2 separate regions of the Homo sapiens genome follow, and region 2 is linked to region 1. Evidence: fine-mapped expression QTL. A gene starts in region 1. The other region holds a variant in brackets. All regions are shown on one strand. Distances are from middle to middle. Region 1 holds the start of MRPL38 (mitochondrial ribosomal protein L38). Region 2 holds the start of WBP2 (WW domain binding protein 2).

Region 1 (5,368 bases):
TCAAAAAAAAAAAAAAAAAAAAAAAAAAAAACTGGTGCAGTGGTACACACCTGTAGCTGCTATCAGGAGGCCAAGGTGGGAGGATGGCTTGAGCCCAGGAGTTCAAGACCAGCCTGGGCAACATAGTGAGACCCCCATATATTTTTTTAAAATGGTAGAGCCACTGCTTCTAGTTTCAAGATATTCATCGTTATTTGCTTCAAGTTGGTACACGTGGGAATCCACGTGAAGCCTCTCTCAAACTGTTAATATCCAAGCAAGCGCCAATCAGGGTTCTAGGACAGCAAGAGGACAAGAATGGAGGAATGCACCGCCACCTGGGTGGCCAGCAGCTTCCACGCCAACTGCCAAGGCCCCATACATCTTCATCTGGAGAGGGCTGGGAGGGTCGTGGGGTAGAGCGGGTGGGTTTAGAGGCTGAAGAAAATGATTCAGAAACAAAAGGACAAGGTGGCCGGGTGCAGTGGCTCACACCTGTAATCCCAGCACTTTGGGAGGCCGAGGTGGGTGGGTCACCTGAGGTCAGTAGTTTGAGACCAGCTTGGCCAATATGGTGAAACCAAGTCTCTACTAAAAATACAAAAAATTAGCCAGGCGTGGTGGTGCATGCCTGTAATCCCAGCTACTCGGGAGGCTGAGGCAGGAGAATCACTTGAACCTGGGAGGCGGAAGTTGCAGTGAGTCGAGGTCGTGCCCCTACACTCCAGCCTGGGCGACAGAAACTCCATCTCAAAAAAAAAAAAAAAAAGGACAAGGTAAAACAGCCACGATGTAAACACACAATCCAGTTATGCTCCTGTACTGCATAACTGCAGTATGGAATGTCACAATAAGCAACTCCTTACGAGCAGGACTGGGTGTGACTGCCCCACGTATTCCCCTCCACACTTAGCATGTAGCAGGTGCACACTGCTGGGTGGATTAGAAATGACTGTGAAAGGTTTAGCTGTTTGGCTGCTGTTTATGAAAACCAGTGGAAGGTGTGGCCACTTCCTGCTGGATGGAGAGACCCTCATTCCATTCTCATTCCATCTCAAAGTGATTGTGAGGGTCAAGCTTCTGCTGGTGCCAGAGCCACTGGCCTGGTCACCACCAGCCCTGGCCTGGGATGTCAGAGCAGGCTTCCTGGAGAGACCCCTCTCCTGGGGCTGGGTGGTGGCCAGGCCAAGGTGGGGCAGTGAGGAGGTGAGAGGCAGAAGACACAGCGTATACAAAGGCCCCGTGGCCTGGAGGCAAAGTGCGATGGAAAAGTCTTGCCTTTTAGGGCAGGAGGGCCAGGGCTGGGGCAAAGGAGGGTCCCAGATTCCCCAGGCTACCAAGTTTTGCCATGGTAGAACTGGATCACAAGGGCAAGCCTGAGTCCTGCCAGAAACATTCACATCTGCACTTAACCAGGTCACTTCTGCCTTTGTGTGGATAATGAGAAGTTGGAGATAGTTGAGCTAACACACAAACCACTGCGAGCGCTTTCCAGAGGGTAATCTTTTCATCCTGACAGCTGTCAGGTAAGCACTAGTGTTAACCTGCTTTTTCCCAAATGAGGAAACCACAAGGAAGACAGTAAGGTCACGATCTGGTTTTTTTTTGGGGGGGGGGAGGGGCATTTTGAGACGGTGTCTCACTCTGGCACCGAGGTGGTGGCGCAATCTCGTCTCACTGCAGCTTCTGCCTCCCGGGTTCAAGTTAATTCTTGTGCCATAGCCTCCTGAGTAGCTGGGATTACAGGCGCCTGCCACCACGCCCGGCTAATTTTTGTATCATTAGTAGAGATACAAAAATTTTTGTATCTTTAGGGTTTTGCCATGTTCGTAGGGCTGGTCTCAAACTAATTACCTCAGATGATCCGCCCACCTCGGCCTCCCAAAGTGCTGGGATTACAGGTATGAGCCACCGCGCCCAGCCACAATCTGGGTTTTTATTACTATTATTTTATTATTATTATTATTATTGAAATAGAGTTTTCACTTTTGTCGCCCATGCTGGAGTGCAGTGGCGCGATCTCGGCTCACTGCAGCCTCCGCCTCTGCCTCCCAGGTTCAAGCGAGTCTCCTCCCTCAGCCTCCCGAGTAGCTGGGATTACAGGCGTATGCCACGCCCGGCTAATTTTTGTATTTTGAGTAGAGACGGGTTTTCACCGTGTTGGCCAGGATGGTCTCGATCTCCTGACTTCGTGATCCACCCGCCTTGGCCTCCCAAAGTGCTGGGATTCCCGGCGTGAGCCACCGCGCCCAGCCCTCAATCTGGGTTTTAAACCCAAGCAGAGTCCGGAATCGGAGCTCGCACCCCTTCTCCCAACCAGGCCTGCGTCCCTGGGGAAATCAGGACGCAGCGTCCAGGGGTTGGAGGAGGGCCCCGGCGGCCGACCCCGGTCTGTGCCGCCCCCTGGTGGCCAGCCATGGGCGAGCATATGACTGCTCTCGGCTCCGCCCCGCCGTCCAACGGGCACTTCCGGAGCCGGGCGTCTACAGACCGCGGCCACCTTCCACCTGCGCCCGAGGCAGACGGTGCAGGGGCCTCCGGGACAGGCGTCTGAGGCCTGCTCCGCAGCGCGGGCCCGGGGGCGGGCCTAGGGGCGGGGCCTGCTGTGGTGCGCTCAGGCACCGCGCTGGCCACCTGTGCCCGGGTCCTAGTGGCGGCCGCAGTGTCGCAGGCCGGAGGGAAGATGGCGGCGCCCTGGTGGCGAGCCGCGCTGTGCGAGTGTCGGAGATGGCGGGGCTTCAGCACCTCGGGTGAGGGGTGGGCAGCTCTGCGGGGGGGGGGGGGGGGGCTGTCGCCCGAGCTGTGGGGCGCCGGCCTTACGTCTTCTCTCTGCCCGCAGCCGTCCTGGGCCGCCGGACACCCCCGCTGGGGCCGATGCCCAACAGTGACATCGACTTGAGCAACCTGGAGCGGCTGGAGAAGTACCGGAGCTTCGACCGCTACCGGCGCCGAGCAGAGCAGGAGGCGCAGGCCCCGCACTGGTGGCGGACCTACCGAGAGTATTTCGGGGAGAAGACAGGTGCGGGGCGACTGGAGCAGGGGCTGCAGCCACCGCCCGGGGAACTCGGGACCCGCCGGCGTTTTCCCCGGGCGCTGGGCGAGCCTTGCCGGCGCCCTTGTGGATGCTGGGGACGCTGGGAGGGCCTGCCTGCAGACCTGTGTGCGCTATCGGCAGCTTAATCACCCCAGGATTTTTCACACCTTCTGCACCTCATTCTTGGAAAATTCGCTCCCCCTACTATTAGAGTTCCAGCTCCTAAAATATTTGCTCCTAAAATCTTGACCACCTGACTTTCCGGATTGGGATGCCGTTCTGTGCGCCTCAAATACTCTGTAGGTAACTCTGGCCACACTGCATTCTGACTGTGCGCTGCCTCTCCCCAGATTGTAAGCGCCCTGTTGACAGGGATCCTGCTTGTCTTGCCCTCCATTGGATCCTTGCACCCGAACAGTGCAAGGATGTACATGTGCAATACTTTGCTGAATGAAATTAAAGGCCTGGGCAGGGTGACTCAAAAAAGAACCCAACCTGGCCGGGCGCGGTGGCTCACGCCTGTAATCCCAGCACTTTGGGAGGCCTAGGCGGGCGGATCACCTGAGGTCGGGAGTTCGAGACCAGCCTGACCAACATGGAGAAACCCCGTGTCTGCTAAAAATACAAAATTAACTGGGCGTGGTGTCGCATGCCTGTAATCCCAGCTACTCGGGAGGCCTCTGAGGCAGGAGAATCGCTTGAACCCAGGAGGCAGAGGTTGCGGTGAGCCGAGATCGCGCCATTGCACACCAGCCTGGGCAACAAGAGCGAAACTCCGTCTCAAAAAGAAAAAAAAAAAAAGACCCCAACCTTTAAGGAACTTACAATTTATGGAGTATATGCTTTTCTTTTCTTTTCTTTTCTTTAGCATTTATAGAGGCAGTTTTGTGGTGGTTAAAGGCACAAGCGTGGAATCTAAATAGCCCGATTTAAATCCTAGCTCAGCCTCTCGGATAATGTCCTTGAGCTTGTTTCAACTGTAAAATAAAATAATTGTGTCTTTGCTACAAAATTGCTGTGAGGATTAAAAGAGGCAATTCATTGGCATTTTTGCCTAATGCCATCTCTGATGAGGGCTCAGTATGTTTTCGTTATTATTATTTTGTTTTGTTTTGTTTTAAGGCAGAGGCTCGCTCTGTTGCCCAGGCTGGAGTGCAGTGGTGCGATGACTCACTGCAACCTCTGCCTCCTGGGTTCAAGCGATTTTCCTGCTTCTGCCTCCAAAGTAGCTGACACTACAGGCATGCGCCACCACGCCCAGCTAATTTTTGTATTTTTAGTAGAGATGGGGTTTCACCATATTGCCCAAGCTGGTCTGAAACTCCTGACCTCAAGTGATCCCCCTGCCTCAGCCTCCCAAAGTGTTGGGATTACAGGCGTGAGCCATAGCACCTGGCCGAGAAGCACTTCTATAAGTCCTTCTAGCATCAGTCATTCACTCTACCTAGGACAGCTGGGTGTTCATAGCCACCTGTGAACAGGCTTGGAGGTGATCTCAACTATAATTGGAAGGACCATTGACTTCAGTTTCCCATGACCTAGACAAAACTGTGACCTGGTTTGGGGATCAGAAAAACACAGCCTCCAGCCTAGCCAACATGGTGAAACCCCGTCTCTACTAAAAATACAAAAAAAATTAGTCGGGCATGGTGGCAGGCGCCTGTAATCCCAGCTACTCAGAAGGCTGAGACAGGAGAATTGCTTGAACCCGGGAGGCAGAGGTTGCAGTGTGCCGAGATCGCGCCACTGCACTCCAGCCTGGGCGAGAGAGTGAGATTCTGTCTCAAAGAAAAACACAACCTCAAGTTGTATCTGATTTGCTTCCCAGTTACATCCTATTCAGGTCTGGGAAGTAGACTGCACAGTATGTTTTAATTCTGTGAATCACAGGGAAAGCTTGAGCAGCAGAGCTTGAAGCACAGAATGAGAGGACTAGGTAGGGACAGGCAGTTTAACCAAGAAGATGTGCCCGCCCCCTCACTGGGTGCAGTGGCTTGCGCCTATAATCCCAGCTACTTAGGAGGCTGAGGCAGGAGGATCACTTGAGACCAGGAGTTTTGAGACCAGCCTGAGCAACATAATGAGATCCCATCTCTCAGATTTTTTAAATTAGCTACCATGGCTGGGCGCAGTGGCTCACACTACTGTAATCCCAACACTGTGGGAGGCTGAGGCAGGCAGATCACTTGAGCCCAAGAGTTCATACCAGCCTGGGCAATGTGGCAAAACCCTGTCTCTACAAAAAATACAAAAATTAGCCAGATGAGATGGTGTACACTTGTAGCCCCAGCTACTCAGGAGACTGAGTTGGGGAGGTTAAGGCTGCAGTGAGTCATGACCCTGTTTTTCCCACAC
Region 2 (5,368 bases), 48 kb after region 1:
TGGCACGATTCTGTAGTCCCAGCTACTCTGGAGGCTGAGGCATGAGAATTGCTTGAACCCGGGAGGCGGAGGCTGCAGTGAGCAGAGATCATGTCAATGCACTCCACCCCAGGAGACGGGCAAGACCCTGTATCAAAAATAAATACATAAATAATAAATAAAATTATAAACAGAAAAAACAGGTGACCAGTTCAGGGGCTCAGCTGCCCCAGACCTTGCCTGCTGGTATCTGAGGCCAACCTGCACTCCTCCTTAGCGCACCGCTAAGATGTGCTCCAGTGTGGAGAATATGAGCATCATACTGCAGTGAAAAAGAGATCTGGAGACAGGCAGACAGGAGTATGAGGCCAGAGGAGAGGTCTGAGTACTGAGACCTGGGCCCAGGGGAGCCTCCTGCTGCTCACCTGGTTCAGCAATAAACCATTGTTGAAGTCTTCGGTTTGAGTTTTGAGTTCTGGTACGTTCCAGCCCCAAAGTCATGGGAGCCGCCCAGGAAGTGTGTTCACATGGTCATATGTTTTTGTAAAACTTAGAAATTCTGGACATTGTAGCCGGAGCTGGTCAAGCTTGTTATCTCTGCACTGCAACTTCCTCTTCTTGTCATTTCCCCTCCTGTCAGGAGGCCTCACTGTAGCCACAGTATTGTGAATGAATAATTGTGGGGTTGTTTTTTTTTTTTGAGTTAGAGCTTTCCTCTCGTTGCCCAGGCTGGAGTGCAGTGGCTTGATCTCAGCTCACTGCAACCTCCGTCTCCAGGGTTCAAGCGATTCTCCTGCCTCAGCCTCCCGAGTAGCTGGGATTACAGGTGACCGCTACCACACCCAGCTAATTTTTTGTATTTTTAGTAAAGACGGGGTTTCACCACGTTGGCCAGGCTGGTCTCAAATTCCTGACCTCAGGTGATCCACCTTCCTCAGCCTCCCAAAGTGCTGGGATTACAGGCATGAGCCACTGCGCCCGGCCTGTGTATTTTATTTCTTAAAAAGAGCCTCCAGATCACTTGAGTCCAGGAGTTCCAAGGAAGCAGTGAGCTATGATCGCACCTGGGTGACAGAATGAGACCCTGTCTCAAAAAACAAAAACATAAACAACCAAGACAGCCTCCAAAATTGTATAAGCTTCAAGGCCTGGCAAAACCTGAACTTGCTCCTGTCTCCAACGTATTTGGCAAAGGGGTGGGAGAGGGGTGGGCAGGTTGTCCCCATCTTCCCATTTATGGTCCTTAGAGCAGCCAATGCTGCCTGCTCTTTGCTGGGGGGATTTTCCTTTTTTTCTTTTTCTTTTCTTTGAGACAGAATCTTCCTTTGTTGCCCAGGCTGGAGTGCACTGGGACGATCTTGGCTCACTGAAACCTTCGCCTCTCAGGTTCAAACAATTCTCATGTCTCAGCCTCCCTATTAGCTGGGATTACAGGAACCACGCCACCATGCACAACTAATTTTTGTATTTTTGCGTTTTTTTTTTTTTTTTTGGGATGGAGTTTTGCTCTTGTTGCCCAAGCTGGAGTGCAATGGCGTGATCTCGGCTCACTGCAACCTCCACCTCCCAGGTTCAAGGGATTCTCCTGCCGCAGCCTCCCGAGTAGTTGGGATTACAGGCGCGCGGATTACAGGCGCTTACAGGCGCACAACACCACACCCGGCTAGTTTTTGGTATTTTTTAGTAGAAACGGGGTTTCTCCATGTTAGCCAGCTGGTCTTGAACTCCTGACCTCAGGTAATCCGCCGACCTTGGCCTCCCAAAGTGCTGGGATTACAGGTGTGAGCCACCGCGCCCGGCCTAATTTTTGTATTTTTATAGAGATGGGATTTTGCCATGTAGTCCAGGCTGGTCTCAAACTCCTGGCCTCAAGTGATCCACCCACCTTGGCCTCCCAAAGTGCTGGGATTACAGGCACGGCACCAGGCCTGGATTTTGCTTTTCTTTTTCTTTTTTCTGAGATGGAGTCTTGCTCTGTCGCCTAGGCTGGAATGCAGTGGCATGATCTTGGCTCACTGTAACATCTGCCTCCCAGGTTCAAGCGATTCTCCTGCCTCAGCCTCCCGAGTAGCTGGGATTACAGGTGCCCGCCACCATGCCCGGCTAATTTTTGTATTTTTAGTAGAGATGGAGTTTCACCATGTTGGCCAGGCTGGTCTTGAACTCCTGACCTCAGGTGATCCACCTGCCTTGGCCTCCCAAAGTGCTGGAATTTGGCTCACGCCTTTGGCGTGAGCCACAAACCCCGGCCTGCTTTTCTTTTTTAAATTTACATATTATTTATTTATTTTTATTTTATTTTATTTTGAGATGGAGTCTCACTCTGTCACCCAGGCTGGAGTGCAGTGGCGCAATCTCAGATCACTGCAAGCTCTGCCTCCCGGGTTCACGCCATTCTCCTGCCTCAGCCTCCCAAGTAGCTGGGACTACAGCCGCCCGCCACCACGTCCGGCTAATTTTTTTTTTTTTTTTGTATTTTTAATAAGGGGTTTCACTCTGTTAGCCAGGATGGTCTCGATCTCCTGACCTCGTGATCCGCCCGCCTCGGCCTCCCAGAGTGCTGGGATTACAGGC[G/A]TGAGCCACGCGCCCGGCCTAAATTTATATTTTAAACGCACATAGGAAAAAAAAATTAAACAGTACCAAAGAGTACAATGCATACTGACATACCGAGTCACCAATCCACCCCAAATTCCTAGACCCATGTCTCAAAAATGCCACAGACATTTTCTGATGGATCTTTGCAAAAATTTTCTATCTAGATCCTATTTTTTATACAAATACAACTATATGTATACAGCATTCTGTGCTTAATAACCCTTGATGATCTTCCCATATCAGCACATAGTCTGACTTAATTCTTTTTAAAGACTGCAGAGATTGCAGGCGCCAAAATACATCTAACCATTGGGGCAGATTTCATTATGACTATCCTTAACCCACTGTACTTGTCCCGCAAGGTCCAACCTGGTATTGCACAGGACCTCACAGAACGCTGCTGTTTCCTGATCTTTTCTAGTGAGGCAGCTTTGTTTCTTCACATAGGAGACCTCCCTGGAAAGCGAAGTCAAGCAGGTGGATCTAGAGGTTGGCCACCACAGTCAGGAAAGCAGCTGTCTACTGAAAAGCAAACTCTAATTCCTTAACATTAACGAGTACCGGAACTACCACGTGGGAAGTGCAGCCCCCTCTCTCCGCCTCACGGATTCAGCTCGGAGGTGCAGGGGTTTGGTGGGGGGCGGTTAGGGAATGACAGCTGCCCCGTGGAGGACGCCCAGGGCTGGGTCACGAGCTGACAGGAGTCAGCCTTATTCTGTAAATCCTAGTTATCAGGATGCCGGTTTCGCGCCGTGCCCAGTCCCACTCAGCCTTCAGTCTTCCGGCCGGGACCCCGCTGGGCGCTAAGGGGGGAGCGGCGCCACCGCGAGGCCGGAGAGGGGGCTGCGAGGGGCGCCCGGCCGGCCTGCGAACGTGGTGGGAGCCAGGCGGGGCACACGGCCTCCCCTTCCCATGAGGGACTCTCCCCGCCCCCCGGGCTCAGCGCTGGGAGTGGTGAGATGGATGGCGGGGTGATCCGACGCCGCCAGCCCACCGCGTCCCCAAGAGCCGGGGCCTCCGGCTCAGCTAAACGCCCCAGAGTCACGCATGCGCCCCATAAACGTCTGCTGAGTGAACGAAAGCTCCCCATCCACAAGGGGACAGCTCGGCGCTCCCACGCCATGTCCAGGTCGCATTCGACCAGCAGGACTTCCCTTAACGCGCTGCCGGAGTCCCCAAGATCGCGCCCCTGCCAGGAGCGGAACTGTTTATTTCCGTCCGGCTGAAGAGGCGGGGTGGGGATGGCACAAGCCGATTGGTTACGCAAAATGTGGAACCAATTCAGGCCTATGATCCAGGAGACTACAAGTTCCAGAATGCATCCTTCCTCCAGCATAGGGACAGGCCGAGGCTGCGGGGGCGTTGCCTGCTGGGAATTGTAGTCTTCATCTTGTTTGTTGCGCAGGAGGAACTGGAAGGAGGGAGTAAACTATTACCACGTGACGTTCGGGTCAGGTGTTTGGGCCAGCCTCCGCACTCGAGCTTTGATTGGCTGACTCTAATAAGAAGACGCCACTAGGGGCGGGGCGAAGAGGGGCGCAAGCTCATTGCGTTTTGAGTCTCGGGACCCCTGTTGGAGAGACTATGGCGCTCAACAAGAATCACTCGGAGGGCGGCGGAGTGATCGTCAATAACACCGAGAGGTGAAAACACTGCGGAAGGATCCTGGAGGACCAAAGTTCGGGTGTCGAGGAAGTGGGCGGTGGGTGGTGGGTGGTGGGGAATAAGCCCCTGAAGAGGGAGCACTGATGGAGTGAGGTTGGTGGGGAACGGCTGGGGGCGGGGTTGGAGGAAGGTGGGTGGGCCGTGGGGGAGAGCCCGGGAGGTTGTGATCAGCTGGGAGGCGGGGGTGGGACGTCTGCATGGGGACCTGGTATGGGGCCCCCGGTGGGGCCTAGGGGTGATTCTTGAACCCCTTCCCAGACTTGTGATTTCAGTAGCTGGGAGGAGCCCCAAACAAAAATAATTGTCACTTATTGGATGTCTACAACGTTACTACGTGTCAGGCTCTGCGCCTTTTCTACCTTATTTAATAAATTCTGTGCAGTATAATCTACTACTGTCCACATTTCACAGGTAGGGAAAGTGGAGGGCAGAAAGGTTAAGTAACTTGCCCGAGATCGCAACTGTGTAAGTAACAGAGGTGGTAATTCCAGGAAAGGAGTCTTGACTCCAAAGTTAATAGGATTAACCACCAGCATACAGGCTTCCAGTATGTTCCAGAACTGTTCAGGTTCCCGGTAAAAAACTGAGGTCCCAGAGGTGAAATTAAACAGATGACGTTTGTCAGGTGTCTAACAGTTCCTGGCACTGTGTGGGTCCGTAGTCATTCCCTTGCCTCTCTCTTGAATGCCTGTTGGTTTGGGTCACCTCGGAAGGCAGAGCTCTCCTAATTCAAGGTTCTTTCCACTCCATCCTCCCCACCCCTTGCTCATTGCATCCTGTCTCTCCTCCAGTCTCTGCCAAGAGAAGCCTTAAATGGCCTCTGTCTCCTTTTGTTCCTTGGGTATTGAAAATCAGACCAGCCAGCCCTGGGTTGAACTATGCCGACCCTGAATTGCCTCTTGAAGGCAGAAGGAGCTTAGGAGGCACCTGAGTCCCCAAAGGAGACATCGTGGAGTCAGAGCCCTGTACCCAGCTAAGGCCAGCATCCAGCTGCCCTGTGACTTGGGAATGTTTGATGAGTCAGAGGAAAATGCCTAGAGTGACCCAGCATGCTCACTTTCCCTCTATCTTACCCGCTCAGAGTTTCATGGGCCCAGCCTGTTGCTGGTAATTCCTTCTTTTCTCTGAG

The links. PIP is the estimated chance that this variant, and not a neighbour inherited with it, causes the effect.
Region 2: its variant is fine-mapped to the expression of MRPL38 in whole blood (TOPMed, PIP above 0.99).

Annotation. Positions count from the first base shown.
Region 1 is chr17:75,902,170-75,907,537 of GRCh38, reverse strand. MRPL38 (mitochondrial ribosomal protein L38) reads left to right here and starts at 2,654. Exons shown (of 9, transcript NM_032478.4): 1 at 2,654-2,729; 2 at 2,819-2,998. The coding sequence starts at 2,663. RefSeq lists silencers at 2,249-2,728, 2,739-2,788, 2,809-2,858.
Region 2 is chr17:75,854,088-75,859,455 of GRCh38, reverse strand. It overlaps WBP2 (WW domain binding protein 2), which reads left to right and starts at 4,121. Exons shown (of 8, transcript NM_012478.4): 1 at 4,121-4,217. The coding sequence starts at 4,159. RefSeq lists enhancers at 2,502-3,297, 3,906-4,035 and a silencer at 3,366-3,535. The variant G/A (reference allele first, on the strand shown) is at 2,554.